4 linked regions of the Homo sapiens genome follow. The protein of the gene in region 2 purifies or fractionates together with the protein of the main gene of each other region. This does not show direct contact. Each region holds a gene or a part of one and is shown on either strand. Other genes may lie near its edges.

Region 1 (6,987 bases), about 90 Mb from region 2:
CGGGTTCGGGAGGGGCCTGGCCCAATACACGGGCAAGGGTCACAGGCCAGCTACCTGAGGGGTGGCTCGGCGTACACACCTTGTCAAATTTCTTATGGCTGTAGACCTTGTTTTTGTTCATGAATGTTAGCAAGATCCAGTCGCACAGGAAGGAGCCCTGGGGCCAGCAGAGACCGGTGTGTAAGGGCCTGGTGGACCCCCCGCACCCGCTGGGACCCCAGAGAGGGTTCCTTACCACCCCGACGGAAGTCAGAGCTGTGGCCAGATTAATAATGGTGGGAATCAGGCTGAACTTCCCGGCCTGGGGAGAATGGGGGTCGTGGTCAGAATGTCTGACGGCGTCTGATGGGGCTTAAGGGAGGGGTGGGGCGTGAGGAGCTCAGACCCAGGCTAGCAGGGCTGGCCACCCACCCCCAGCAGGTGCAGGCACCTGTCCATGCACAATGACGTCAATGCGGATCCCGTAGGCCTTGATGAGCGTGCGGGTGGTGGTGCCATTGATCTTGTAGTATTTGGCAAACCTGCAATGGGAACGCCAGTGCCCACTCGTCCTCTGCACTCCAGGGCTGCCCCACAGGCATTGGGCCTCTCGGGACCCCACCACAGCTATGCCAGTGTGGACAGCGGTGTCCCAAGTACAGCACCTGAAGTTGTAGCCTGACGAGGCAGGCACGTGCTTGGGGTCAAGCCTCCGGAAGGAGTACTTGGGGTTGCACTCCGATGCAGGCAGGTCCAGGTCACAGTCCCAGTTGATAATGACCCCGATGACACCACCCTGCCAAGAAGGAGCCAGAGAAGGGGGTCAGGAGGGCACACGAGAGGCCCCTCGAGAGCCCGGGTCAGTCCCAGGCCAGGGAAGGGGGTCACAAGGGCACACGAGAGGCCCCTCGAGAGCCCGGGTCAGTCCCAGGCTGCATGTGAGGTGTGCACTGAGGGGCCCATGGGGCAGCTCAGGGGTACTGGTGGGCGTCCAGTGTCTGAGGCACAAGGGGTGCCAGCAGCCAGCCCCATGGCCAGTGTCAATAATTCAGCAAGCGCCACACCGGATGGGTTGCGCTGATCGCATTTCTTTTCCTCTGCCTGAGCGGGGCCAGCTGGTCAGGAGGGAGGAGGGACTGGTCCCCTGTACCCCAGGCCCTCTCTGTGCAGGTGGGAGCCCACCCTGGCCCCACCCTGCCTGCGCTTGCCCTGCCTTGTGTGCGAGCTCTGTGAAGCTCTCCCCAGCCTTCTCCACGATAAAGCCCAGCTTGAAGATGGGGCAGTAGAGGTCGGAGGCCTCGTGGAACGTGCAGCGCTTCAGGTACCCGTCTGTGCGGTCGGCGATGTTGCCCCTGAGGAGGCGGCAGGAGGCGAGACCTGCACCCCAAATACCCCATTCCCAGAAGGCAGCCCTCAGGCTGGGCCGTCACCACACCCCGCGGCTCTTACTTGGAGAAGTGGAATTTGGGGTAGTGGATGCTGTTCTTGATGAGGATGGTGAAATTTGGGGCCATCGTACCCAGAAATTGGCTGAGGAGGCACAGAAGGGTTGTTTAGTCCCCTCTTCCCGCAAAGCCCCCGCCTGGCATTGGCCCCCACCCCTCCCCAGATCTTGTCACTCCTGCCCCGCCCGTTTGGCCTCTGGTCAGGGGAAAAGGATCAGAGGGGAGGCTGGGCCCCAGGCCGGGGCGCAGGTGCACCTGACAGAGGCCCCATCTTCCACCGGGCACCAGCCGAACACCTCGCAGGTCTTGGAGGGCCCCTGGTAATAGGGCACACAGCGCCCAGTCCTCAGGCCTGGGAGGCAGAGGTCACTGAGGCATTAGCGGGGACGCAGCCCTGCCCCACCCGCCCAGCCCCAGCTGGCGCACACCGACCGTTTCCCAGCATGTCCAGCTCCCCAGCCACGCAGTCGGCGTCGGAGAGGCAGGTGGCGTTGTGGACCCTTATGCTCTAGGGTGGAGGCGGCCCAGTCAGGGACCCCGCAAGGGACAGCTGGCCCGCCTAGCTGAGGCGGGGTCCCCCAGCGCCGCGGGATCCCCTCACCTCGGGGCAGGTTCCCTGGGTCTGGGAGTGGGTGGCCTCGACCCTGGTGATGATGCTGAACACGCTGCCCCCCTGGGCTCAGAAAGAGGGGGCGGTCGGCCAGGCGGCAGCCGCTGCCCCCTCCGCCCACTAGGGTAGGGTGCACGGCGGGGCGGGGGGCAGGGGGCGGCCCGCACCTCGGGGGGCTTCACGTACTCCTCCACGTCCCACACTTTGTGCTCGGACGTGGTGATCCCCTTGACCTTGGTGATGATGGAGCTCTCGGGGCCCGTCTCGCTCTCCTGGTAGCTTTTCTGCACGATGAATACGTACCTGCGGGCAGGGGCGGCGCCGGCTCCGGAGGCGACCCTGGGAAGGCTGAGTCCCGCCCGCAGGCACGGCAGGGGCCCTCCCGCGACCCGGGTCCGCTCTGCGGGGCTCTTGGGGCCTGCCCCGCGCCCTCGGTCCCAGCCCCAGCCCCTGCCCCGCGCCCCCGGTCCCAGCCCCAGCCCCTGCCCCGCGCCCCTGGTCCCAGCCCCAGCCCCGCGCCTCCAGCCCAGCACCCCGAGTCCCAGCCCCTGCCCCACGCCCCCAGTCCCAGCCCCTGCCCCGCGCCCCCAATCCCAGCCCCTGCCCCGCGCCCCCGGTCCCAGCCCCAGCCCCTGCCCCGCGCCCCCGGTCCCAGCCCCAGCCCCAGCCCCGCGCCTCCAGCCCAGCGCCCCCAATCCCAGCCCCTCCCCTGCGCCCCGCACCCCGCGCCCCGCACCCCGCGCCCCGCGCACCACACGAAGTAGAGCAGGATGAGCAGCTGCACGGCGCGGTACAGGACCCCCAGGCGCCGGTTCCTCACCACGATCACCTTGGGCGTCTCGTAGTCCCAGAGGGCGGACCAGCAGCCCCGGGCCAGGCGCCGGGCGGTCGCCCCGGCGGGGTACTTGGGCTGGGCGGCGGCCATGGCGCGGGCGGCCCCCACCTCCAGGAAGGCGCTGCAGGGCTGAGGGTCGGCCCCGCTGCGCACCGAGAGCGGGGGGCGCGCGGCGGGCGGGTAGCTCGCGGCTCCGCCTCCGGGGTGCGGCCTCGAGCCCGCCCCGCCTCGCCCCGGCCCCGCCCCGCCCCGCAGGTGTCCCGGGAGTCCCGGGTGTCCCAGGTGGGGCTGGGAGCGGGGCCTCGCGGGGACAGAGCCGGGGGCGCGGCAGCCCAGCCCCAGCTCTTGGTCCAGGTGGGGGCCGAGCGCGGAACCGGCGGTCTCGAAGTTGGAGGGTCGGGATTCCCCGGGTGGGAACTTTTTCCGAGCTCGAGGAGAAAGACATGGGAAGTCCCGCCGGCCTCCGCGGCGCCCCCCACCCCGTCCAGGCCGGTTCCTGCCGCGGCTGCCGGGGCTTCGAGCGCAACCTGCACTCCCGCCTTTGCCAGCAGACGCCTCGCTTCCAGCTCCTGCCTCCGCCGCAGCTCCAGCCCTCGAGCTGGAGAGGGATCCACGGCCGATCCGTTTTCTTCTTTGCAAGCCAGAGTTTTCTTTCTTTCTTTCTTTCTTTTTTTTTTTTTTTGGTAACTTTTCGAACCTCCACCCCACCCACATTATTTTGAAGCAAATCCCAAGCATCACAGTTTTTCACAAAATAATTTTAAAATAGTTTATTATGATAAAATCAGCATAGCATGTAATTAACTATTTTAAAGTAAACAATTCAGTGACATTCACAACATTGTGCAACCACCACCGCCTCTGTTTCGTCCCCAAACACTTTCCCCACCCCAAAATAAAACTCCCATCCATTAAGCAGTCACGACCCGTTCCACACTCCTCCCATGCCCTGGCAACCACTGGTCGCTTTTCTGTCTCAGTGAATGGACTTGCCTGTTCTGGATATTTCATATCAAGGAAATGCAATATTTGTTTCTGGGTTAATGCCTTTTCTGTCTGGCTTCATTCACTGAGCATGTTTTCAAGGTTCATCCACATTGTAGCATGTGTCAGGGCATCACCCCTTCTTATGGCCAGGAGAAATGTCTAGGCTATCCAAAGAAGGAATTTAGATTGCTTTCAAACTAACTCTGTGAATAGTGCTGTTATAAACACTGGTGCATAAGTATTTGTTTGAACTGTTAAATTAACTCAATTAACAGGCTGCCTCTGTGCCTTGAGTTTCTAGGTAACAACAAACTGCAACCTAATGTACCACAGAAACAAGCTAAAAGCTTAACCTATGAGTATATTTTGGAACAAATAGCTGGGTCTCAGCCAGTCACAGGCTGCTAACTGATCTGATCATGCCATATAAGGCAAACATTTCAAGCAGTAACAAAATCAAGCTAATTGTGATTTTTTTTTTTTTGTATCTCACTTCTGTGTTCTATCTATAAAAACTTCCTGCCCACATTACAGAGTGGAGCTCTCGAACCTCCCCCATTGGTTCTGAGTGCTGCCCAATTCATGAGTTGTGTTTTGCTCAATTAAACTCTGTTGGCTGGGCACAGTGGCTCATACCTGTAATCCCAGCACTTTGGGAGGCCAACATGGGTGGATCACTTGAGATCAGGGGTTCGAGACCAGCCTGGCCAACATGGCGAAACCTCGTCTCCACTAAAAACACAAAAGTTAGCCAGGTGTTGTGGCATCTGTAATCTCAGCTACTCGGGAGGCTGAGGCAGGAGAATCACTGGAATCTGGGAGGTGGAGGTTGCAGTGAACTGAGATTGCACCACTGCACTCCAGCCTGCATGACAGAGGGAGACTCTGTCACACACACACACACACACACACACACACACACACACACACACAAACTCTTAAATTTAATTTGTCCAAAGTTTTTGTTTTAACAGTTTGGTGTCAGAAGTGGGATCTGAAGTAGACCTCCAGCCACCCCCTAGGAGCACTGAATGCTCAGTAGGGCCTGTGTGCCTGCTGATCTCTCAAAGCATCTAGAGTCATAGGTGAGTTCTCTCTGCTGGATTTGTGCTCTATGACCATGTGTTTTGAGCCCTCTACTTTGAGCAATTCTTTTTTTTTTTGAGATGGAGTCTCACTCTGTTGCCCAGGCTGGAGTGCGGTGGCGTGATCTCAGCTCACTGCAACCTCCGCCTCCCAGATTCAAGCAATTATCCTGTCTCAGCCTCCCAAGTAGCTGGGATTACAGGCACATGCCACCGCGCCCGGCTAATTTTTTTGTATTTTAGTGGAGACGGGGTTTCACTGTGTTGCCTGGGCTGGTCTCAAACTCCTGAGCTCAGGCAATCCACCTGCCTTGGCCTCCCAAAGTGCTGGGATTACAGGCATGAGCCACGGCGCCCGGCCTTGAGCAATTCTTAGACCGGAATGGGTCCAGGATTGAATTGGATCCAAAACTTAACTCTATTGTATCCAGTTAGAGGCCTTGAGTAGGTCCCTTTTGGCTTGGGTTTGTCTGAATCCAAGGAGTCTGCGTGCCGCCTTCTGGGACGTTTGCTAATTATGTGTGTAAGAACTATGGACCCAGAACTTGTGCACATTTTAGAAAAATCGGCTAACCCCAAACTCAAAAAGACCCCTCCAGATTCTTGGAACCGTACACCTTTCGGAGACCTTAAGGTGAAGCTAACCAGGGAAGTTTTCCCCAGAAGCAGACGGGATCCTAAATGTGGACAGCTTTTCCAAGATCATGGGTTGAGACTTCTCTGCCATCATGACAGCCTTAGCCTCCCCCTGGCCCCTTATTTCCTGCTGTCTGAATCTTTTCCTTTTCATTACAGGAAAATCCACAGCACCATAATGTGTGGATGGCGTCAGCTAAGGCTTACGCTCTAGGAAAAACCCAGAGTGGTAGTTGGGTTTGTGGGTTAATGTCAAAAGCCAGGAAACTACATCAATCCCTGTCATTTTTCACGATGACGGTCACTCTGGAACTCCCAGGGGAGAGTGGAGAGCGTCCCCATGTGTCCCAGGGGAGACTGGAGAGTGTCCCCATGTGTCCCAGGGAAGAGTGGAGAGAGTCCTCGTGTGTCCCAGGGAAGACTAGAGAGCGTCCCCGTGTGTCCCGGGGGAGAGTGGACAGCCCATATGTCCCAGGGGAGAGTATCCCCGTGTGTCCCAGGGAAGAGTGGAGAGCGTCCCCGTGTGTCCCGGGAGAGAATGGACAGTGTCCCCGTGTGTCCCAGGGGAGAGTGGACAGTGTCCCCCTGTGTCCCGGGGGAGAGTGGGGAGCGTCCCCATGTGTCCCAGGGAAGAGTGTTCCCGTCCCTGTGTCCCAGGGGAGAGTGGAGAGCATTCCCGTGTCCCAGGGGAGAGTGGGGAGTGTCCCCGTCCCTGTGTCCCTAGGAAGAGTGGACAAACACACTCTCCTTTATGTTCCAGACACCGCTGCTATCACTTTCATATACCCGCTGAAACGGTGTTCTGACCTTTCCAATTAATAATCCAAACACTGCTCATATGTAAAGCGTGCCTGAACGATGCCTTCAGAAGGTAGATGAGGCTCCAGGCATCACATACTCAAGACCTGGGAGTTCTCTCTGTGGGTGGGAGACACGGCATGTGTGATGTCACTGGATTGAGTCCAGTGAGGTCCCTTTCCATTAACTGTGGTTACACACCCTCACAGCACACTGTAAAGGGAAAAGCTTCATACCGGAGCTTTTCCGCTGGACCTGCTTCGGGAGCTGTACTGACATGTGGGTGAAAACGTGTCACTGACTTCTGCTCAGATGCCACCAGGTGGCGCCCTTTTCCAGCCCCCGAGAGCTTCTGCTGGGTCTGTGGAGAATCCGCTGTTGGGCCTCCTCACTGGTTTGAATCTTGCAATTTGGTCCGGCTCAGTCCTGCCTTCCAAGTAGCTTCCCCTGACAGTTCCCACCCAGGATACCTCCCATAATCGGAGGCCAAAGCAGTCAACAACCAAAATTAGCACCAGCCTTGAAATAAATGAAGTTAGTTTTCACTGAAGAAAGTTTCCATTAGAATTCTTGGTGGTGGTGAGGTGCTGGTTGTGTGGAATTCTAACCTAA
Region 2 (7,026 bases):
ATCTTCTTCTCAGGAGTCCTTAAAGACCTTCTTGCATCAATTAGTCTTTCTTTCTCCTTAACTGGCAATCTCTATTTGTGTAGTAGACTGTATTACTGTTCAGTTATTCACTCCCCACATTTAACTGTAAAAGGATTATACAACCCTATTCATTACCATGGGCCTTGCCTGCCTGATAAGGGAGGCATATATCCCTGCATCATTTATTGACTTTGACCTTATTCAAGTGACTTGCTTTGGCCAAAATAATATAAAAAGACATGATACTGTGGCATCAAAGTAGAAGCTTCAAATGGGACTGTGTTGTTCAATCTGGCTTCTTGCTCATCCACTACCACAAGACCAGGCATATCCAATGTATGGATTGCTCCTTTAGCTTGGATCCCAGGATGAGAAGATATATCAAGCAAAGTCATAGCCATAGACATGTAATGTGTGCAAGAAATAAATGCTTGCTATTGTAAACTGTTTAGATGTATGGGGTTGTTACAAAGCAAAGCAGAATAATACAAGCATAATTCCCTTTTAAAGTGTGTAATTCAATGGTTTTTCGTATATTCAGAGTTGTGCAACCATGACTCACCAATTAAATTCCTCAGTATATACTCAAGAGAACTGAAAACATGTTCACAGAAAAACTGTCCATGAATGCTCAGAGCAGCATTATTCATAATAGCCAAAAAGTATGAAAGAACTCAAATGTCCACCAAATAATGAGCAAAATGTGGTATATCCATACAATGGACTATTATTTGTCCATAAAAAGGAATGAAATATAGTGATACACGCTACAGTGGATAAACCTTGAAATATTATGCCAAAAAGAAAGCCAGATTCAAAAGGCCACATACTGTGTGATTCCTTTATGTAAAATGCCCCAAACAGGCAGACAGAAAGTAGACTCGTGGTTGCTCATGACTGGGGGACTGAGGAGTGCAAGGTGGGAGTTACTGTTACTGGATACAGGGTTTCTTTGGGGGGTAATGATTTACTTCACAAAGGTTTAATGCAGTCAAAATTGGATAGGAAAAATCAAGTTATAGGTAAATTTATTGATCATAATTCAATGTCAAAAAACACATAGTATATAGGAAAGATGTTTTTCTTTCTTTACTGGAAATATAAGAACACATGCACTAGTGAATACATATGCTGCATACCATTAAAAAATCATAAAACACTTAGGTATTGCTGTAAGGAATGAAGTAATTTGTTTATAGTTTTTTAACTCCCAAATATCTATTCTCCCATTTTGAAAAACTGGTTTGGGAGATTTAGATAAAGAGTAGAAACTCACACTGAGAACTTATGACATATCAGTGGCTTATTAGAAGCAATAAGATAAATTAGCAAAAGCAACTCATCTGAAGACAGCACTTGCACTTTTAGGCCAAAAAGAAAAATTAAAGTTTGAAAATACTGGAAAAGTAAAGGTAGTTATCCAGGTTCTGGCTATTAGTTGCTTAAAACTGTTGAAAGCAGAATATTAAACATCCAACATTCAAAGAGGTAACTCTATTAAATAATTTTAATGAGGCAAAGCATTAATATGAGTTAGGTGGGTATGTCTTCACTATACCCATACTGACATTCAAAAGCACTGAAGTCCTAAAAGGGAACTTTTTCACTGTGGATCAAACTGAAATAAAATGTTACTATGGCTCATCCTCAAGTTTAATAAGGCATAAAGCATCTAGCTCTAGGTAGCTTGTCTACAACTGACCAAGGGGTAGCACAAGGTACCTTTGCGGTGATGAAACAATTCTGTATCCTAATCCTAATTTTGGGGGTGGTTACATGTATTTACATGTGATAAAACAACACTCGGCATAATAACATTTGTCAAACTTGAAGTTTACTTAAAACCAATTACAGGAGGTTTTTTATACATACATACATACATACATACATACATACATACAAACAAACACACACACACACAAGTCGCCCAGGCTGGAGTTCAGTGGTGCGAACACGGTTCATTGCAGCCTCAACCTCCTGGGCTCAAGCAATCCTCCCACCTCAACCTCTGGAGTAGCTGGGACCACAGGCGCACACCACTATGCCCAGGTAATTTTTTGTATTTTTGTTGTTGTTGAGAGAGTGTTTTGCCAAGGCTGGTCTAGAACTTCTGGGTTCAAGCAATCCACCCACCTTTGCCTCCCTGCTAGGATTACAGGTACGAGCCACCATGCCTGGTTGTACTTTTAAGTTAAACTAGAAAAAGTAATTTTCATTTCAAAATGTCCAAGATAGGAGGCTTCAGTGAAAACTATGCAAAACTTACCAAAGAGTCAGTGATACGAGATGAGCCTGACCAACATGGTGAAACCTCATCTCTACTAAAAATACAAAAATTAGGCCAGGCGCAGTGGCTCACGCCTGTAATCCCAGCACTTTGGGAGGCCGAGGCAGAAGGATCACAAAGTCAGGAGATCGAGACCATCCTGGCTAACACAGTGAAACCCTGTCTCTACTAAAAACACAAAAAATTAGCCAGGCTTGGTGGCATGCACCTGTACTCCCAGCTACTTGGGAGGCTAAGGCAGGAGAATCGCTTGAACTCAGGAGGCAGAGGTTAAAGTGAGCTGAGATCGCGTCATTGCACTCCCGCCTGGGCGACAGAGCATCTGTTTCAAAAAAAAAAAAAAAAAAAAAAGCGGATCACAAGGTCAGGAGATCGAGACCATCCTGGCTAACACGGTGCGGTGAAACCCTGTCTCTACTAAAAATACAAAAAATTATCTGGGCGTGGTGGCAGGCGCCTGTAGTCCCAGCTACTTGGGAGGCTGAGGCAGGAGAATGGCGTGAACCCGGGAGGCGGAGCTTGCCTTGAGCCGAGATCATGCCACTGCACTCCAGCCTAAGTGACAGAGCGAGACTCCATCTCAAATTGAAAAAAAAAAAAAAAAGTCAGTGATAAATTTAGGCATATTCAGCATAAATATTTGACAGTATGAATGAAGTGCTGCTGCAAAGCAGTAATGCAACTTCAAGGCATGTATACCCTCCCTGTGACTGTGCAAGAAAAGCAAAGATGCTTACGGACACATTAAAGGAGGCCATTCCCATGATACTGCCAAATCACTACTATTTAATTTTCAACTAAATTGTTTCCAAGTCGGGCGCAGTGGCTCACGCCTGTAATCTCAGCACTTTGGGAGTCTGAGGCAGGCAGATCACCTGAGGTCAGGAGTTCGGGACCAGCCTGGCAAACATGGGGAAACCCTATCTCTACTAAAAATAAAAAATCAGCAAGGTGTGGTGGCATGCGCCTGTAGTCCCAGCTACTCAGGAGACTGAGGCAGAAGAATCGCTTGAACCCAGAAGGTGGAGGCTGTAGTGAGCCGAGAGAGTGCCACTGCGCTCCAGTCTGGGTGACAGAGACTGCGTCTGGGTGACAGAGACTGCGTCTCAAATAAATAAATAAATAAACAAACAAACAAATAAATAATTTCTAGACAACTTAACTTCTAGCTCTAAGTAAGATCTTCTTTTTCTTAAATTTCTAATTTCATTAATCCTTGGCAAGTAGGAAAAGGACTGCTTATATATAAATGACACTGAAACAATCATCTACCCATTTCAAAGAATAAGTTAGCATCACACAATATACCTCCTCTACCAGCCCCCAGCTCCCCCACAAAGCTGGATTGATTTAAATCTAAAAAAGGGAGGGGAAAAAAACTGGTAGAAAGCTTTCCTATGCGTAATAAAGGTAAACACGATAAAGTAAAAAGTAGCCAATCTGAAAACAAAAATCATAAACCTCATACAGTACACACATTATGAACAAAATTTAAGTTTATACGTAGGGGAAGTACTTCCAATAGGTATGGCATATAGATAATGATCTTACTGCTTTAAAATAAGATTTTCTAGGCAGGGTATGGTGGCTCATGCCTGCACTTTGGGAGGCCGAGGCAGGTGGATCACCTGAGGTCAGGAGTTCAAGACCAACCAGGCTGGCCAACACGGTGAAACCCCGTCTCTACTAAAAAATACAAAAAGAAAAAAACAAAAAAAGCTGGGCAGTTGGCACACACCTGTAATCCCAGCTACTTGTGAGGCTGAGGCAGGAGAACTGCTTGAACCCGGGAGGCGGAGGTTGCACTGAGCCAAGATCATGCCACTGCACTCCAGCCTGGGCAATGGAGCGAGACTCTGTCTCAAAAAAAAAAAAAGCCAGGTGTGGTGTGCACGCCTGTAGTCACAGCTACTCGGGAAGCTAAGGTGGGAGGATCACTTGAGCCCAGAAGGTCAAGGCTGCAGTGAGCCATGATCTCAGGCCACTGTACTCCAGCTTGGGTAACAGAGTGAAACCTTGTCTCAGAAATAAAAAAAAAAAGATTTCTAAATCAAAAGTACATATTATTTTTTCATCAACCAAGTAACTTTCTCCTCCAAAAGCACAGAATATTTTAATTAATTAATTACTAGTATTTATTAATATGTGTCAGGTTTGGACTAAGAATTTGCTATGGTCTGAATGTGTCCCCTCAAAATTCATATGTTGAAATCTAATTACTAACATGATGTTAGGAGGTAGGGCCTTTTGGTAGATGATTAGGTCATGAGAGCAGAGCCCCCATGAATGGGATTAGTGGGGGGCCTTATAAAAGGGGCCTGCCTCGCCTCTTCTACCATGTGAGAACACAGGGAGAAGGCGCCATCTATGAACCAGGAAATGGGTCCTCATCAGACACTGAATCTGCTGGTACCTTGACTTGGATTTCTAGTCTCCAGAACTGTAAGAAATAAATTTCTGTAGTTTCTAAGCTCTCTAGTCGATGGTATTTTGTTATAGCAGCCCAAAGAAACCAAGATAACCCTTCACAAATATGTAACGTAGATACCACTATGATCCTTCAATGACCTAAAATACAAAGTATAGGGCACTGGTTTTATGTAAGATGTTTTTGCAATAACAAAGCAGAGATTAAAGTGGCTTTAGTAAGTAATTCAACTTTCTTTACTGTTCACTGACTCAACTCTCTTCTTCAAACATAACTGCAGAAAAAAGGGGGGAAAAGGGCTGGGCACGGTGGCTAATGCCTGTAATCCCAGCACTTTGGGAAGCCGAGGTGGGCGGATCATAAGGTCAGGAGATGGAGACCATCCTGGCTAACATGGTGAAACGCCGTCTCTACTAAAAATACAAAAAATTAGCTGGGCATGGTGGCAGGCACCTGTAGTCCCAGCTACTTGGGAGGCTGAGGCAGGAGAATGGCATGAACCCGGGAGGCGGAGCTTGCAGTGAGCTGAGATCGCACCACTGCACTGCAGCCTGAGTGACAGAGCAAGACTCCATCTCAAAAAAAAAAAAAAAAAGGCGGGGGGGGGGGGACTTCACTAAAAACAGTAGTGTGAAAATAGTGCCCAAACTATTCTCAATTTTTGGTTTTATAACAAGCTGGAGCACATATCTAAAACATAAATTCCTGGACCCCACTGCCAGGGCATTTTGATTTAACAGGTCTTAACTGGAGCCCAATGACCAGAATTTTTCCCAGAGGTCAGAAATTGGAAGAAAAAAAAAATCCCAACTTAAAATTTAAATTACCAAAATGATATTAGCTAAAATGTTGTTGTGTCAGGCACCATACTAGGTACTCTGTATCAGCTATTTAATATTTAATTTCAATTCTCACAAACAATATCATACTGTTCTCTCTGATGACGAAAACAAGTTCAAGGTCAACACAGTAAGTGGCAAAGCTGAAGTCTGTCACTCCAAAACTCTTACTTTCTATTCTTTAAGTTCTCAGTATATAACACTAGTATTCCCAGGATCCAGCAGAAATGACAACTCTATGGCCTAACCAGATCTAAAAAAGAAAGTGAAATAATTACCTCCCTGTGTGACAAGGAGACACATAAGGAGACTCCAAGGGCTTGATGGGTCCAGAAACGGTATCACTGAAACATTTAGTAATTTCTTGATTCCCCACTACCAATACTGCTGTATAGCCACAGGTAAAATTTTGATAATCAATGTCAGGACTCATCAGTGAAATATGATAATTTAATCATCCTGAGTAACTAAAATGCAACAAAGTGGTATGAATTAGTGATGTCCGGTAATAACTACTGCTTTCTGTCAAACACCTTAATACAGTCTGTCCACACTGAAGAGCTTGAGTATCTCCTTCTAGAACAGCCACTGCCTATCCAGCATTCCTTCTCCTTTGAGGCACCGCTCCTCTCCAACACCAATCATGTTATTCTGTCTGCCACAGGAATGTGCAAGTGACACAGAGTCAACAAATCAGAGTTCCCCATCCCAAGTAACACTGACTGGTCCACAAACGGGCATGCAACCCAGGCAAGTCCAATGACAGCCTTTTCCTAGGATTTTGTATTTGAGATTAGAGAATAAAACCTGCAAGAACAGAAAAACCCCATGAACAAAGTTTTGTCTTTACTGGAAAAGACTCCCCAGTCCTTAAGGTCCTTTGAGCTGCCCTGCTATCTGCAGTTTTTCCTTCATTTCAAAAACTGTATAAGCCTATAAATATGTTTTGCTTGAGATAGTTTTACTGAATTTTCATCAAAGACAACTAAGAATTCTATTACAAATTAAGTAAGGTAATCTAATGTACAGCCTGATGACTATAGTTAACAAAGTGTACAGTATACCTAAAATGTGCTAAGACAGTAGATCTTTAGTGCTTTCACCACAAAAAAAAAAACCCTATGTGAAGTGATGATATTAACTAGCTTAACTGTGATCATTTCTCAATGTATATGTATGTCAAACTATCAAGTTCTATGCCTTAAACATATAGTTTCTATTTATCAATTATACCCTACTAAAGCTAAAAAAATTTAAGTATTATCTACATTTTACAGGTGAGGAAATTAAAACACAGGCATGTGACACAATTTAGGCAAAGTCTCACAGCAACCAGAGCCAGAATACTGAGAACACGGGTTTATCTGACTACAAGACCCATGTATTTTCTGATTATTAAAATCATGGCTTCAAACAGAATACACTAACGGATAAGAGATTCCACTGAAAAA
Region 3 (7,026 bases), on a different chromosome or scaffold from region 2:
TTCCTGCTCAGCTCTATCAGTTCAAAACCCATCTCAACACAAAATGCAAAATTTAGTGTTCTTGAATTGTCTGGTAATTTTATAATTGGAGTAACTTCTGAAAAGAATGTTACAAATAGATCCCAAAAAACAACTTCCAAATTAGCAGGCACCTTTAAATACTTCAAAAGAGTAAAATTTTAATCAAAATGATTATTAGAAAGAAAGATAATATTTTAGATAAAATTGAATTAAACTAAGCTAAAATTTTTGTTGAGTAATTTGTTAAAGTTGTTTACCTTTTAAATACAGTGAGCTAGCTATACCACTTTAGTGCTAATGCTTTAGGCAAATTGCCTAGAGAATTTGCTTCTCCAAATCTTACATTATTCAAAACACAGATCAAATAAAAGCTCTCCTCACCAGCCACTTTCTGACCTGTTGTATTGTTTGATCACTAATCTGACCTGTTGTATTGTTTGATCACATTCTGCCATATATTTAAATTATTTGTGTTCATCCCTTTCCTCAGGATTGTGAACACCTTGAAAGCAGTACTACCGTTTAATTATTTTTCACCAAATGTTCTAACATTGTGCCTCATATATTCTAGATTTCTAAATAAATATTTAAAAACAAATTAAAGGCCGGGCGCAGTGGCTCACACCTGTAATCTCAGCACTTTGGGAGGCTGAGGCGGGCGAATCACGAGGTCAGGAGATCGAGACCATCCTGGCTAACATGGTGAAACCCCGTCTCTACTGAAAATACAAACAAAATTAGCCAGACCTGGTGGCATGCACCTGTAGTCACAGATACTCTGGAGGCTGAGGCAGGAGAATCACTTGAACCTGGGAGGCGGAGGTTGCAGTGAGCCGAGATTGCGCCACTGCACTCCAGCCTGGGTGACAGAGCAAGACTCCGTCTCAAAAAAAAAAAAAAAATTAAACATTTCTGTTTAGCATAGAGGTAATGTAAATTCTCTTAAAAATCTTGATTTTGATAATTAAGGTTTTTTTTCTTTTTAAACCAGATATAATAACCCTGAGAAACTTTTGGAAACAAGATGTGGACGGTGTGGCGAGTGGGCCAATTGTTTTACACTGTGCTGCCGAGCTGTAGGGTTTGAAGCTCGCTATGTTTGGGATTACACAGGTACAGAATGTGGAATGAGCAGAGGGTAGTAGGGCTTTGCAGGCTTGCAGGTTTGGGTTTACATTCTGAGCCCATGATTCTCTGTTACTTTTTGGCCTTGTCAGTCTGACCTTCCATTTGCCTTGTGTAAAACAGTAATAATACCAACCTTCCAGGTTTTTTGAAGGGATCACAAGAGTTTTGTAAAACACCTAGCACTGTGCCTGGTGCTTTGCACTATAAATATTCCTTTTTTTCCCCTTTATTTTTTTATTGATGCATAATAGATGTACATATTTGGGGGATACTTGTAATGCATTTATATAAATTCTACAGAGCAAATCAGTATTATTGGGATGTCTGAGATCTTAAATATTTGTCTTTATGCTGGAAACATTTGAATTACTCTCTTCTAGCTATTATGAAATATGCAGTGGATTATTGTAAACTGTAAACACCCTATTGATCTATCAAACACTAGGTCTTGTTTCTTTTATTAGCAATTTACCGTGGCATTTATAGTGATGCTGTTTATATATGGATAAAAACATGTAATAATGTACCATAGAAATCTTCATTGCTATAGGGATTACTGTAAAAAATTTAGTAAACTATAAACTTAAAGCACAGTATACAGAAATAATAAAAGTCATGTGATATTTGTGTTGTCCCTATTTAGAAATAACTTGTGTGGTCTACATGTTAAAAAGTTGTTTTCCTTGTGTTTCCATTTTCTAAAGAATTAAATGAAACCTTCCATTAATAGTTAGTGTTCTCTTAAAATCAAATATAAAGCATGTATTGACCAGAGATTCTATTAGACTTCCTGCTGGTTCTGGGCCTTAAAGTCCAGAGAGAGAGACTGTAGTTTCAAAAGTGGCATTAACTCCTTCATGATAGTAAACTCAGGATGATATTTTTTATGCTGCTCTTTAATATGTCTACCTTCTTAAGAGTTACAGCGCACATTAAGCCTAAAACTGACCACGTTAAAGGAGATTGGAAAAACATTTTTAAGGATTTCAAAGAGACAGAAATTAATACAGGTATTCTAAAATCCTGTGTGCCACAAAATGCACTTATTAACTGAAATTCAGAATATTATGCATTACTTTATGATTCTTAGGAGTTTGTGTATAGTTATTGAAAGTCATTCTGATTTCATTGTCTTTTTTCCATTGCTCTCTTTTCTCTTACTTGAGTAGACCATGTCTGGACAGAAGTCTATTCTCCTTCTCAGCAGCGGTGGCTGCACTGTGATGCATGTGAAGATGTCTGTGACAAGCCACTCCTTTATGAAATAGGATGGGGCAAGAAGCTTTCCTATGTCATAGCATTTTCAAAAGATGAGGTAGAGCATAAAAGAAAAAAACTTTTTTCCAAAAGTAAAATATATTTTTTTCTTTTATGACAGCTTCATGAATGTATAATTAACATACAATAACCTGCATATATTTAAATTGTACAGTTTGATAAGTTTTATTTGTATACACTGAAATCATCACTGCAAATCAGTATTCATTGTATGGATGTGCCATAGTTTACCATTTCACCTGTTGATGGCTATTTGGGTAGTTCCCAGTTTTTTTCACAATTTCAAATTAAGCTGCCATGAACACTCAGGCACACAAGTCTTTATATGGGCATATGCTGCCTTTTCTCTTTGCTTAATGCCTAGGAGTAGAATGGCTGCATTATATGGTAGATATACATACAACTTTTTAAGAAACCACTAAACTATTTTCCAACGTGGTTGTGCCATTTTACATTTTCGCAAGCAGTATGTAAGTTTCCAGTTTCTCCATGTCCTTGCTAACATTTAGTATGATCTGACTTTTTAATTTTATCCCCTTTAATAGGTGTGTAGTGGCATTTCATTATGGTTTTTATTTGTACTTCCCTAATGACAAATAATACTGAGCATCTTTTTATGTGTTTGCTTACCATCCATATGTCCCCTTTGCTTATTTTTTTTAATTGGGTATTGTGTTTTCTTACTGTTTGGTTTTGAGAGTTCTTTATATATTCTTATATAAGTCCATTATCAGATATGTGCTTTGCAAAGATTTTTCTCCCTATCTGTAGTTTGTCTTTTTATGCTCTTAATGATTTTTGAAGAGAAGAAACTGGCGTTCAGTTTACCAATTGGTTGTTTTATGGATTGTGCTTTTTGATGTTATATTTAAGAAATTTTGCCTAGCCCTTGGTCACAATGATTTTCTCCTATGTTTTGTTTTAGAAGTTTTTTTTGGTTTTATGCTTATGTCTGCAATCCATTTTGAGTTAATTTTTTTATATGATCCAAGGTGTATGAAGTTTTTTTTTACATATGGATAATGAATTGTTCTAGCACCATTTATTGAAAAGATTATTTTTTCTCCATTGAATTGTCTTTCCACTTGTATCAAAAATCAGTTCTGTAATATAAATCTAATACAATAAAAATGGATAAAATTTTTATTTGTTGAATTTTGTGGAATCAGCTTTGCAGATAAATTTTAAAAAGGTAATGTTTTGAAATTTTCACTTTTTTATCATAGCGTTTCTGGTTAAACTATCAACTGTTTAGGAATGAATAAGTGACGTATTCTCTTCCGTTTATTTTATAGGCTTTTACGTTTTATTTTATTTTATTTTAATTTTTCGAGACAGTCTCACCCTCTTGCCCAGGCTGGAGTGCAGTTGCATGATCCCAGCTCACTGCAACCTCTGCCTCCCAAGTTCAAGCGATTCTCCTGCCTCAGCCTCCTGAGTAACTGGGATTACAAGCACATGCCACCACACCTGGCTAATTTTTTTTGTTTGTTTTTTTTCAGTAGAGACGGGGTTTCACCATGTTGGCCAGGCTGGTCTCCAACTCCTGACCTCAGGTGATCTGCTCACCTCAGCCTCCCAAAGTGCTGAGATTACAGGCATGAGCCACTGCACCAGGCCCCATGACTTTTAAATTTTAAACAAAGGATAGTATTCTAAAAATTGCATTTAAGGCTGGGCGTGGTGGCTCATGCTTATAATCCCAGCACTTTGGGAGGCCAAGGTGGGTGGATCACCTGAGGTCAGGAGTTCGAGACCAGCCTAGCCAACATGGTGAAACCCCATCTCTACTTAAAACAATACAAAAATCAGCCAGGCGTGATGGTGCATGCCTATAGTCCCAGCTACTCAGGAGGCTGAGATACGAGAATCTCTTGACCCTGGGAAGTGAGACTGCAGTGAGCTGAGATCACGCCACTGCACTCTAGCCTGGACAACAGAGCGAGACTTCGTCTCCAAAAAAATGCATTTAAAAATTACATACATTCTAGGTATTTAGTAAGTAAAGGTTGATGGTTGTAATCTTGTTAAGTATTTGTATTCTGTTATTTGTTTCAGGTAGTTGATGTCACTTGGCGATATTCCTGCAAACATGAAGAGGTGATTGCCAGAAGAACTAAGGTTAAAGAAGCATTACTTCGAGACACTATTAATGGGCTTAATAAGCAGGTATGGTGTGGCTATCTTTTTTGAAAGAACAGTTGACATTTTTTATGTAATCGAGAATAGCCGTTTATTAGCCTATTGAAATTCTTAAAGTAGTAGCATTGTTTTATAAACAAGAATATTTTAATATTCTTTTTGAATATTAAAGAATAAAAATATTCTTTTTGTTCATTGAAAATTTTGCGGACTCATTTTAAATATTATGAGTTATTTTGGATTAAACTGTCTCATTTCAAAGTTCTTTGAAACAAAATTTCAGTATTGGTAGTACCTGACAAAAAATGTGTTGTCTTATTTATCAGTGTAACTGTGCCTTGGATATGACACAGACTCATATTTATGTATTATGTATGTACATACACACACACACACACACACACACACACACACACACACACACACACACACGTCCATGTGAGGAAATTTCTGAAGCAAGGCACAGGAAGTTATTAACAATGACTACTTCTGAGAGGAGGAACTGGAGTTCCAAGATGAAAGGTTCAATTTTTGTTTTATACCCCTTTGATAGTATTGAAATTTTTAACTCTATACATGTGGGTTTTTTTCATAAATTAAAAAATAAGCAGTGAATTTTGCTGTAGCAGGCAGTTAGAACAGGGCAGAGCACATTAATCCAATCAGTGATAATGATTCCAGGTGAGGTTTCAGTCTATTTTGAATCTGCACTTACTCCTGATGTGTAGCCCTTCGGAGATCTCTACCTGAAAACCTGGATTATTTGCTAGATCCCCTTGCATTAGAACACTCTGACCCTCAGTTTATTTTTACCCCAGCACTGTGATTCTGCTAAAAATTCTGCTTTGATTTCCAGCACTTTAGTCACTATTTTGTCCTTGGCTTCTCAGCCTCTTCTCATGCCACTTAATAATTGACAAATGACTGGAAGGGAAAAGAGGTGCAGTATGTGCCCTTCACCTCAATTCTTTTCTTCTCTTGGAATCTTGACTTCTCAAGTTCTGGCTGCCTTTACAGCTTTCTGTTGCACTCAAACAGGTGTTTATATGTGAGTGTTCTGTTTGTGTGTTTCCACTAGCTTTTCTAGCTTTTCTCAGTAAGACATTCTGACACAAGCCAGTCTATCATATCCAGAAACAGAAGTTGCTACCTTCATTATAAATAAATCTAGGACAGTAGAGCTCATGGAGAGTTGGAAATAGGTGTTAAATGATTTCCCAACATAAAATTTATAAAATTATTTAAGTTTTCCACAGTGTCCTTTTTATTTTCTGAATAATATATGTTTGAAAATAAAATTCAGTACTTGTTTCAAGACCTCTTAAAATGCAAGTGTTTTAAGTATATTCTTGCTTAGAGATGGACCTATACATTCCCCTAATCTTAACAACTTTTTTAAAAAACATGAATTACAGAGGCAACTGTTTTTGTCAGAAAACAGAAGGAAAGAACTTCTCCAGAGGATAATTGTGGAGCTTGTTGAATTTATATCTCCCAAAACCCCTAAACCTGGAGAACTTGGGGGAAGAATATCTGGGTCAGTGGCTTGGAGAGTAGCCCGAGGTGAAATGGGTCTACAGGTATTTAATTCATTCTAGCATGATGATCCTTTTACTTTCCTGCTTCATATACTATGCTCTTCCTATACTATCCTCCAACTGCATTGACTATGACCTTTCAGTTAACTTGAGAGTAATTATTTTAAAATGCAAACATTTGAAGAGAACCAGTAATTGATTTACATAGCATTATCGTGTAAGAGTTAGCAAAGCATTTTTAAAATGGGACTTAAAATTTTTTTTACCTTATGTAAATTTTTAGTGCAGTGTAACTTTTACTGAAGAATATACAGGAAAATGCACAAATTATAAATGTACAGCTTAATGAATGTTTACAAATTTAACACCCATGTAATCGCCAACCAGAATAAGAAATAGATCACTGGAACCGTAGAAACAAGCGTGAGTTTCTTTCCCCACTGCCTTACACCCTCGAAAGTAATCATTATTCTGGCTTCTAACATCATATATTAGTTTTGCCTGTTATTGTGCTTTATAAAATGGAATCATATAGCATGTACTGTTTTGTATATAGCTTGTTTTGTGTAACTTTGTGTCAGTGAGATACATGTTGCAACGTGTATGGTATGTTCTCATTGCTGTATAATTTATTGTATGAATGTAATTTTTCACTGTTGATGGCTATTTGGGTTATTTCTAGTTTTGGCTGATATAAATGGTGCTGCTCTGAACATTTATATTCACGTTTTCAGTGAATATGTTTAGGCATTTTGTTGGATGTATACCTAGGAGTGGAATTGCTAGGTAATAGAGTATGAGTATATTCAGCTTTAGTACATATTGCCAAACAGTTTTTCAAAATGGTTATGCCAGCTTATACTCTCACCAGCAGTATATGAAGTTTTTCGACATCTTTGTGTACACTTGGTATTGTCTA
Region 4 (6,938 bases), on a different chromosome or scaffold from region 2:
TCATGGCGGAAGGCAAAGGAGGAGCAAAGGCACGTCTTACATGGTAGCAGGCAAGAATGAGTGTGCAGAGGAGCTGCCTTTTATAAAACCATCAGATCTCGTGAGACTTATTTACTATCACAAGGAGAACAGCATGGGAAAAACCTGCCCTCATGATTCGATTACCTCCCACCAGGTCCCTTCCACAACATGTGGGGATTATGGTAGCTACAATTTAAGATGAGAATTGGGTGGGGCCATAGCGGAACCCTATCAACTGGGGACGAGGGAAATAGAATGTCCTGGCTCATGAGTTGAAGAGAGTCTAGCCTAGGAAAACCAACCTGCCGAACTACATACAGGGAGGCTTAAGGGCTGAGTAATGCCTGATCCCTACCTAGCTCCCTTTCAGTGCAATAAGGAAAATATTCTATTCAAGGATATCTTGTAGGTGAGAAAAAGAAGTCACTGTACTACGCTTCATGAGTACCATGGTTACTAAATCTGGGTAATGCCATTTTTTCCTGTAATTTTGCCCAATGATCAAAGTAACAAAATGCCAACTGTAGAAAATTTGGGAAGGCTAGAAATGAAAAAAGAAGCAGGAAACATTCTACTACTCATCACTGACTACAATTTTAGCACAGTTCTTCTTAGGGCTAAGCAATTTATCCCATAGGCTATGGTTCTAGAGATGGCAAACGTGCTTACAAACTGATCATTTGATGGTATTTCTTTTTCTTCAGAGCGGAGTCTCGCTCTGTTGCCCAGGCTGGAGTGCAGCGGCGCAATCTTGGCTCACTGCAGCCTCCGCCTCCTGGGTTCAAGCGATTCTCCTGCCTCAGCCTCCTGAGTAGCTGGGATTACAGGTGCCCACCACGCCCAGATAACTTTTGTATTTTTAGTAGAGACGGGGTTTCACCATGTTGGCCAGGATGGTCTCAAACTCCTGACCTCGCGATCTGCCTGCCTCGGCCTCCCAAAGTGCTGGGATTACAGGCGTGAGCCACCACGCCCAGCCAATTTGATGGTATTTCTTCATGAAGTTTACAGTTAGCAGCTTCTGACCATTTACATGGAGGCTGCATGATAACAGTCCCCTCATCAGGTATTAGAACTTAGTAGCAAACTGCTAAATAATATTCCATGGCTACCACCAAAGTCAGCACAGGTTTTTGGTTCAGAAATCTGAAAGAAGTCAGGCTGAGTCTAAAAGAGATCAGACTAAAAATAACAATATAACTGAATTTTCAAAATGCAAATCACATCATTTAATATCCACCGTGGCACTCACCTAGTTGACAAGAAGAAAGGGCTGTTGAGAATTCTAAGGCAAGCCATTTTTCTGGAACTTTTTCCCAGGGCTAACAGTTTAGAGAAGAGCCCCATTCATTTCCCCAACCCTCAAGACAGACCAGGTCTGAATGCCCAGTAAAGGCAGTTTATTAGAAAATCAGGTGGAGGATGGGCTATGAAGATTTACTGTTTTAATTCATGTTATTCCCTCTACCTACAACATCCTTCCCTACTTTCCCCCTGGAAACCTCCACCCATCTTCCAAGGTTCATTTCAATTATGGTCTCTGGGAAGTCTTTCCCTTTCCCCACCCCATGGAGCCTAACTACTTCAGGCCCAGTTACGCTTTGCTAGCACTTTGAATATTCTGTACCCTATATCATTGCATTATTTACTTGTCTTTCTCCCACCTGTAGATGGTGTATACTGTTAGAGGACAAGAACCTGCTTCTAGCCATCTTTGCGTCTCCAGGACCTGACTTGTGACCATTCAATAAGAGTTTGATAGATGGACAGACTAATGAATAGATGAAGATGATTAGAAGCCAAAATTTCTGAATCTTCCTAGCACCCAGAACATGGCTTAACATCAAGGAAATGCTCACTAAATACTGTCATAATGGAATGAATGGAACCGATGCCTAATTGAAAATCATTAGGCTGTAAACCATTTCCATGTTCCAATTTCTTCGTTTATAGAACAGAAATGATAGTGTAACCACCTGAAAATCCTTCACCTAGACTTCCAAAACCACACCCACCTCATCAATGAAGTCTGACTCTCTAGAAAGAAGCAAATGACTGAAATCATGGTCCTGTGCCTTGACCAAAATACCATTCGTCAGAACAAAAGAAGTAGGTCAGTGAAACGGCATTAGTATATCCTTCAACAGGCAAATAAGTGATAGTGTAGTTTGCTTTTGAAGTCGCTGTGAAAAGTTTTAGGTGAACATCACCTACACCACATTAAAAATGGAATCAAGTCATTTTCTTTAAGAAATGGAGTTTGAGATATGAGAATTCTTTTGGGCTTTTTCTACTTATTGGCCAATTATACACCCAGATATATTTCTGCAATATTTCAAAGATTCTAGTTCTAATTTGTATAATAAAAAAAATTAACAGCCTTTTCCAGACCACATGTTTCCAACAAGACCTTCAAAGGCCTCGCTCGCTATATAAAACTGGCTTTAAACAATTTCCTTTCCCAAAGAAGGAAATAAGATATTTCGGTTTTGTAAAAGAGGCAAAACCAGGTACAGGCCACCTTTCCTGCTGGAGAGCTGGCATAAGTGAGTGGATTCTTAATTACTATTTTACCTGCGGGGCATAATTACTTACGTGGAGTGAAATAAGGAGCCGTCCTTTTCTAAGTAGCCTTCATAGTGGACCAACATCAAATCCCCTCCTTTGGTCTTGCGATGGCAGATGAATGGCTTCTGGAGAACTTCAATTTTCACTTCTGGTTCAGGGATCAAAGCCCCAATCAAAGAAGTGACGAACAGAGTCAAGACCGCGTTCCACAAGAAAAGCCTCATGTTGCTGAAGCAAGGAAAGAAGTCCCTACAAAAGCAGCGAAAGGTCCCTCGACTTCATAGATTTAAGAACGTAGTTCAAGGCTTACGGACAAGGGCTTCAGACAAGTTCAGGACTCCCCCTTCTTAGAAGACGTGGCACATTTACCACCAACTCTTTTCTCAAGGGTCACGAACCTACCTTTAAAGAGTTAAGCCCAAATGCCGGCCTGACTGGCTCTTATAACGCGGCCGCCTGGGAATAGCAGCCTCCCATTGGCTATTGGTGCTGTCCTTCAGGCAGCTCTCAAGCCAATGACGCTGCAACGATGGAATTTACAGCCCGGTAGAGCCGGGCAGCTGCCAAGCGGCGGATCATCCCTTGTGGTCCTAGAGCCCGGTGGATTTCAGCATTCAACCAGCGTGGATTTTGGGAGAGGGGCGGGGCGCAGAGCCAACCGGAAACTCCTCCGGCTGATTTATCTCTGTGAAGAACCCTGCTGAGAGACGTAGGAAGAGTCCCGGGGCCCTATGAAATCTTCGGGGTTCCAGGAAAGACTCGTTTACTCTCGCCGTTGGAGAGCGGCCCCCCAAGATGCCACAATCCTAGGATTTTGCTATTGCTTATAAACTGTAAAGACTGACATACTGCTTGAGGGTTCACAAAGCGCGTTCCCGTTGCATGAACCTCACTACACCCAGTAAGGCAGGTTCTTTTTTCCCATTTAAAAGAGAAGTAAATTTACACCAGGAGATATTAACTGTCCTGCTTAAGGTTGTTTGGCCCCGAAGCAAATGAGCTCTGCCTTCAAACCAGGTCTGATTCATTCCACAGCACCACGTCATGTTATGGCTGCTAATAATTTATCCCTTAAGTTACCTTACAGGGTAAATAATGAGTTTCGACTTGCAGACTTCCGCTTTAAAGAAGAAATGGTAATCATGGTTACGAATTACACAGCCTCATCGTAGTTTACATTTTCTAGTTTTACATTTTTTGCCTAAGTTCAAAAGTAATGCATGTTCATTGAAGTCATTTTGGAAGAAATTGGAAAGCACTAAAGTAAGATTTCCAGATAATATTGGGGAGTCGAATCAAGTTGGAATTTCAGATACATAACGAATAATGGTTTTGCATTTTTATTTACTAAATCAGGCAACTTTAAAGAAAAAGAAAGCTCGCCGATACCACCACCAGCCGCAAACAATCCTCTTAATATTTTGGTGCATGCTTCTGTGACATATACTTAAAGCGATTTAAATCGTATTGTAGTCTTTTCTCACCTCCTCTTTCCACTTAATCTGTAGTTAACATTTTTTCTGGTCTAATAACCTTAACACAGTGCATATCCGCACTCTATGTGCATAGGAATCCCCCTGAAGATCTTGTTTAAAATGCAGATTTTGATCTGGAGGTCTGGGGTGGGTGCAAGATTCTGCATTTCTAACAAGCTCTTAGGTGATGTCAGTGCTCCGGGTCAGTAGATCAACACTTCCATAGTGAGACCTTAGAGTCTGGACAACATCTGTTTACACTGGCCTCATAGTATTCTACCCTGAAATTCCAATAATCTCTTTACGCCCTGTTATTGGTTACCTCAAGTGTGTGAGATCAATTAGGCAGCTTTGGAACAAGAATAGGGACTAGAACTCAGGAGGTATCGTGAGAGGTCACGTAGACCCTCAAACGGCGGGCACCATTTACAGTCAGAACTGCGCTCCACACTTGTCTCAGGGGCCTCCCTCCTCCCGTCGCCTAGTCCGCAGTCCGCGTCTCGGGACTCAATTTCCCTGCGGGCCGTTCCCGCAAACTCCGCCCCGCCGCCGCTGCCGCGAAATCCCGGAGTGGATTTTGGGAAGGGGCGCGCGAGCGGCGCCCTGGGCATGCGCGAGCGCGTCCCGGGCCCGGCGAGTCGAGGGTTCAGGTGGTGCGCCGTGGCGCCGCCTGCGACCGGCAGCTCGTTCGCCGCACTTTGGAGGCTTCGGCTGCCCCTCCGACCCACGTAGGGCCCGGACCCGGGCCTCCTTGTGAACAGCGTGCCGGCTTCGCCCCACGGGTTCACCGGCTGGCTGGGCTTCAAGCGCCGAGGCCGCCGCAGTGACCCCGCCCCCGGGCCGAGGATGTGAGGCGGGCCGGGCGTCCCCACACCGGGCCCGGGCGCCGGGAGTGGGCGTCTGGGCAGCGCCAGGCGATGGCCCTGCTGCTGGTGCTCCTCGCCTCTTGGGGCCTGGGGCAGTGAGGGGGCCGGCGGGCGTGGGCCGAGTGGCCGCGGGCGCCATGGAGGGGGTGCTGTACAAGTGGACCAACTATCTGAGCGGTGAGTGGCCGTGCCGGGCCGGGGGCGCGCCGGGGGCCGGTCCTTTGTCTGCGCGGCTGGAGGGCGGTGTCTGGACCCGTCTTAGGGAGGGGGTCACGGCCCTTTCCTGAGGCCAGCGCGGAGCGGGAGTATTTCCCAAAGCAGTTCTCTCACGGGACCGTGTCGCCGTGCAGGACGACACGGCCCTCTCTTGGGGTTGGTTAAGAGCTGTGGCTGCCCTTTCGCTTCAAGGAAGGCTACAAAGACTGAGATTTTGGGTGACTTGAAAGGCACGGTGCTCTTGATGTCAGCGGGAGGAAGGCGCAGACGCCCCGCCGTGGGGTTCTCTGGGAATCTCTTGAATTTTGGCGAAGGAACCGTACTCCCTTGGCTCGCAGCTAGGTTGGAAGGTTTCAAAAGAATGCCAGCAGTAACCTGGAATTCCACAGCGGAAAGATCCTTTATCAAAGTCCTCAGTGCAAACACTTTCCCTTTGTCACCTTCAGAGTCATCTGCGTGCACACCAGGGTGTCAAGAGTCCCAACTCCACAGTTTCAAAGCTCTGCACAAGGTTTTTTATTTTCTCGTTGAGCATTTCCTTTTGTTTTACAGACTCAGAAATTACCGTTAAATGAATGCAAATATTTGCAACTTTCTTGCCGTGCCTTACAGATTGGCTTTAAAATAGTCCCCGCCCTTTTTTTCTAGTTTGTGGAGGTAAAAGCTTCATATCTTGAGAAGGTTGTAACTGTTCTACAGCTGTGAAAATTATTCAGAACGATCATTTTTGTCATGTGTGCAACTAGTATTTAATACAAGCCTACTATATGCTGGAAACTGTGCTAGCCACTTTTTTGGAAGTAAACTTTTTATCACAGAAAATGAATTAGGTCTTTAAAATTTTAAAGGCAGTGTGTTTGAAAGCAGAAATGTTCCCAGTATCCCTTAGAGTGGGTGAGAGACGTTTTCTTTCTTTTGTGGGATAGTTTTTAAAAGGTTGTAGTATGGTAATGCGCCGGGTGTTTTAAGAATGGGTGTGTGTGGGAGGATCAGTTGGCATACATAGTAACTTCGAGGAGGTCACACAGCACAGCCAAAGGTGCCCCTATTGGGCGTACCCAGAATCTCTTCCCTTTGCTTAGTGTAATTAGCAGTGAGTTCACCTGTTTATTTTTTTTCTGTAATCATTAATAGAGACTAAATGAGAAGAGGTTTTTCTTGTTTGCGTCAAGGACCTTCAGTGATGTCTGCAATTAGATTAGATGAGAATAACTCAAAGCTAGGCTTTGGTTTGGTGGATGACAGAGGCTGATCAACACTGCTAACCTAAGGGGAGGAGGCTCGACCTGGCAGTTTTCCTTCTGAGGTCTCTCTAAGCTCTCAGATGCATATACTTGAGTAAAATTTAGTTCCTGATCCTTCACTCCTTTCCATTACACACACTTTTTTTCATTCATCTTCAACATTCTTCTTTTTTTCCCATTCTTCCCCATCCCCAACTTTTTTTGTTGTTTTGTGGGGTTTTTTCCCCCTCTTTTCCTTCTCCTTTCTATATAGAAAGTTTAGTCTCTTGATACAGTAACTATTTCCTGGTAGTGAAATGCTTTTGCTGTTGTTGTTGCTGACTGTCCTTGTGTATCCTTCAATAAAGCAGAACTCTCTAGAAGGATCTTTTGGAATCTTTGTTATTTGATTCCTATCTGTTCTGTTGGAAAAGAGTCTACTTTTTTCTTCCCAAAGTAAGAGAAGTTAATGCTGTGAGTGGTGCTAGGGTGGAAACCCTGAAGAAGAGGGCACTGGAGCCATTGCCAGAGACAGCTGTCTCTACGTGATGCTGCTTGTTCCCTTAGCC

What was found.
Region 1: the proteins of GXYLT1 (region 2) and P2RX2 purify together in Homo sapiens (affinity purification with mass spectrometry; 2 studies listed by BioGRID and IntAct, with this or other methods). This does not show direct contact.
Region 3: the proteins of GXYLT1 (region 2) and NGLY1 purify together in Homo sapiens (co-immunoprecipitation; 2 studies listed by BioGRID and IntAct, with this or other methods). This does not show direct contact.
Region 4: the proteins of GXYLT1 (region 2) and FKBP14 purify together in Homo sapiens (affinity purification with mass spectrometry; 2 studies listed by BioGRID and IntAct, with this or other methods). This does not show direct contact.

What each region holds. Positions count from the first base shown.
Region 1 is NC_000012.12:132,614,789-132,621,775, reverse strand, and holds the start of P2RX2 (P2X purinoceptor 2), read right to left. Parts: upstream 3,001-6,987; 5' UTR 2,960-3,000; coding exon 2,787-2,959; intron 2,338-2,786; coding exon 2,202-2,337; intron 2,098-2,201; coding exon 2,026-2,097; intron 1,933-2,025; coding exon 1,857-1,932; intron 1,777-1,856; coding exon 1,680-1,776; intron 1,510-1,679; coding exon 1,429-1,509; intron 1,332-1,428; coding exon 1,193-1,331; coding exon of another isoform or gene 1,188-1,192; intron 776-1,187; coding exon 645-775; coding exon of another isoform or gene 522-644; coding exon 431-521; coding exon of another isoform or gene 412-430; intron 302-411; coding exon 236-301; coding exon of another isoform or gene 158-235; coding exon 1-157. UniProt on the Homo sapiens protein: ATP-gated nonselective transmembrane cation channel permeable to potassium, sodium and calcium.
Region 2 is NC_000012.12:42,134,867-42,141,892, forward strand, and holds part of GXYLT1 (glucoside xylosyltransferase 1), read right to left. Parts: intron 1-7,026. UniProt on the Homo sapiens protein: Glycosyltransferase which elongates the O-linked glucose attached to EGF-like repeats in the extracellular domain of Notch proteins by catalyzing the addition of xylose.
Region 3 is NC_000003.12:25,731,442-25,738,467, reverse strand, and holds part of NGLY1 (peptide-N(4)-(N-acetyl-beta-glucosaminyl)asparagine amidase), read left to right. Parts: intron 1-1,012; coding exon 1,013-1,134; intron 1,135-2,067; coding exon of another isoform or gene 2,068-2,159; intron 2,160-2,318; coding exon 2,319-2,464; intron 2,465-4,485; coding exon 4,486-4,596; intron 4,597-5,984; coding exon 5,985-6,149; intron 6,150-7,026. UniProt on the Homo sapiens protein: Specifically deglycosylates the denatured form of N-linked glycoproteins in the cytoplasm and assists their proteasome-mediated degradation. Cleaves the beta-aspartyl-glucosamine (GlcNAc) of the glycan and the amide side chain of Asn, converting Asn to Asp.
Region 4 is NC_000007.14:30,023,696-30,030,633, forward strand, and holds the start of FKBP14 (peptidyl-prolyl cis-trans isomerase FKBP14 precursor), read right to left. Parts: upstream 3,008-6,938; 5' UTR 2,814-3,007; coding exon 2,617-2,813; exon of another isoform or gene 1,692-2,616; intron 1-1,691. Other genes in the region: PLEKHA8 (pleckstrin homology domain-containing family A member 8), read left to right, coding at 5,068-5,107. UniProt on the Homo sapiens protein: PPIase which accelerates the folding of proteins during protein synthesis. Has a preference for substrates containing 4-hydroxylproline modifications, including type III collagen. May also target type VI and type X collagens.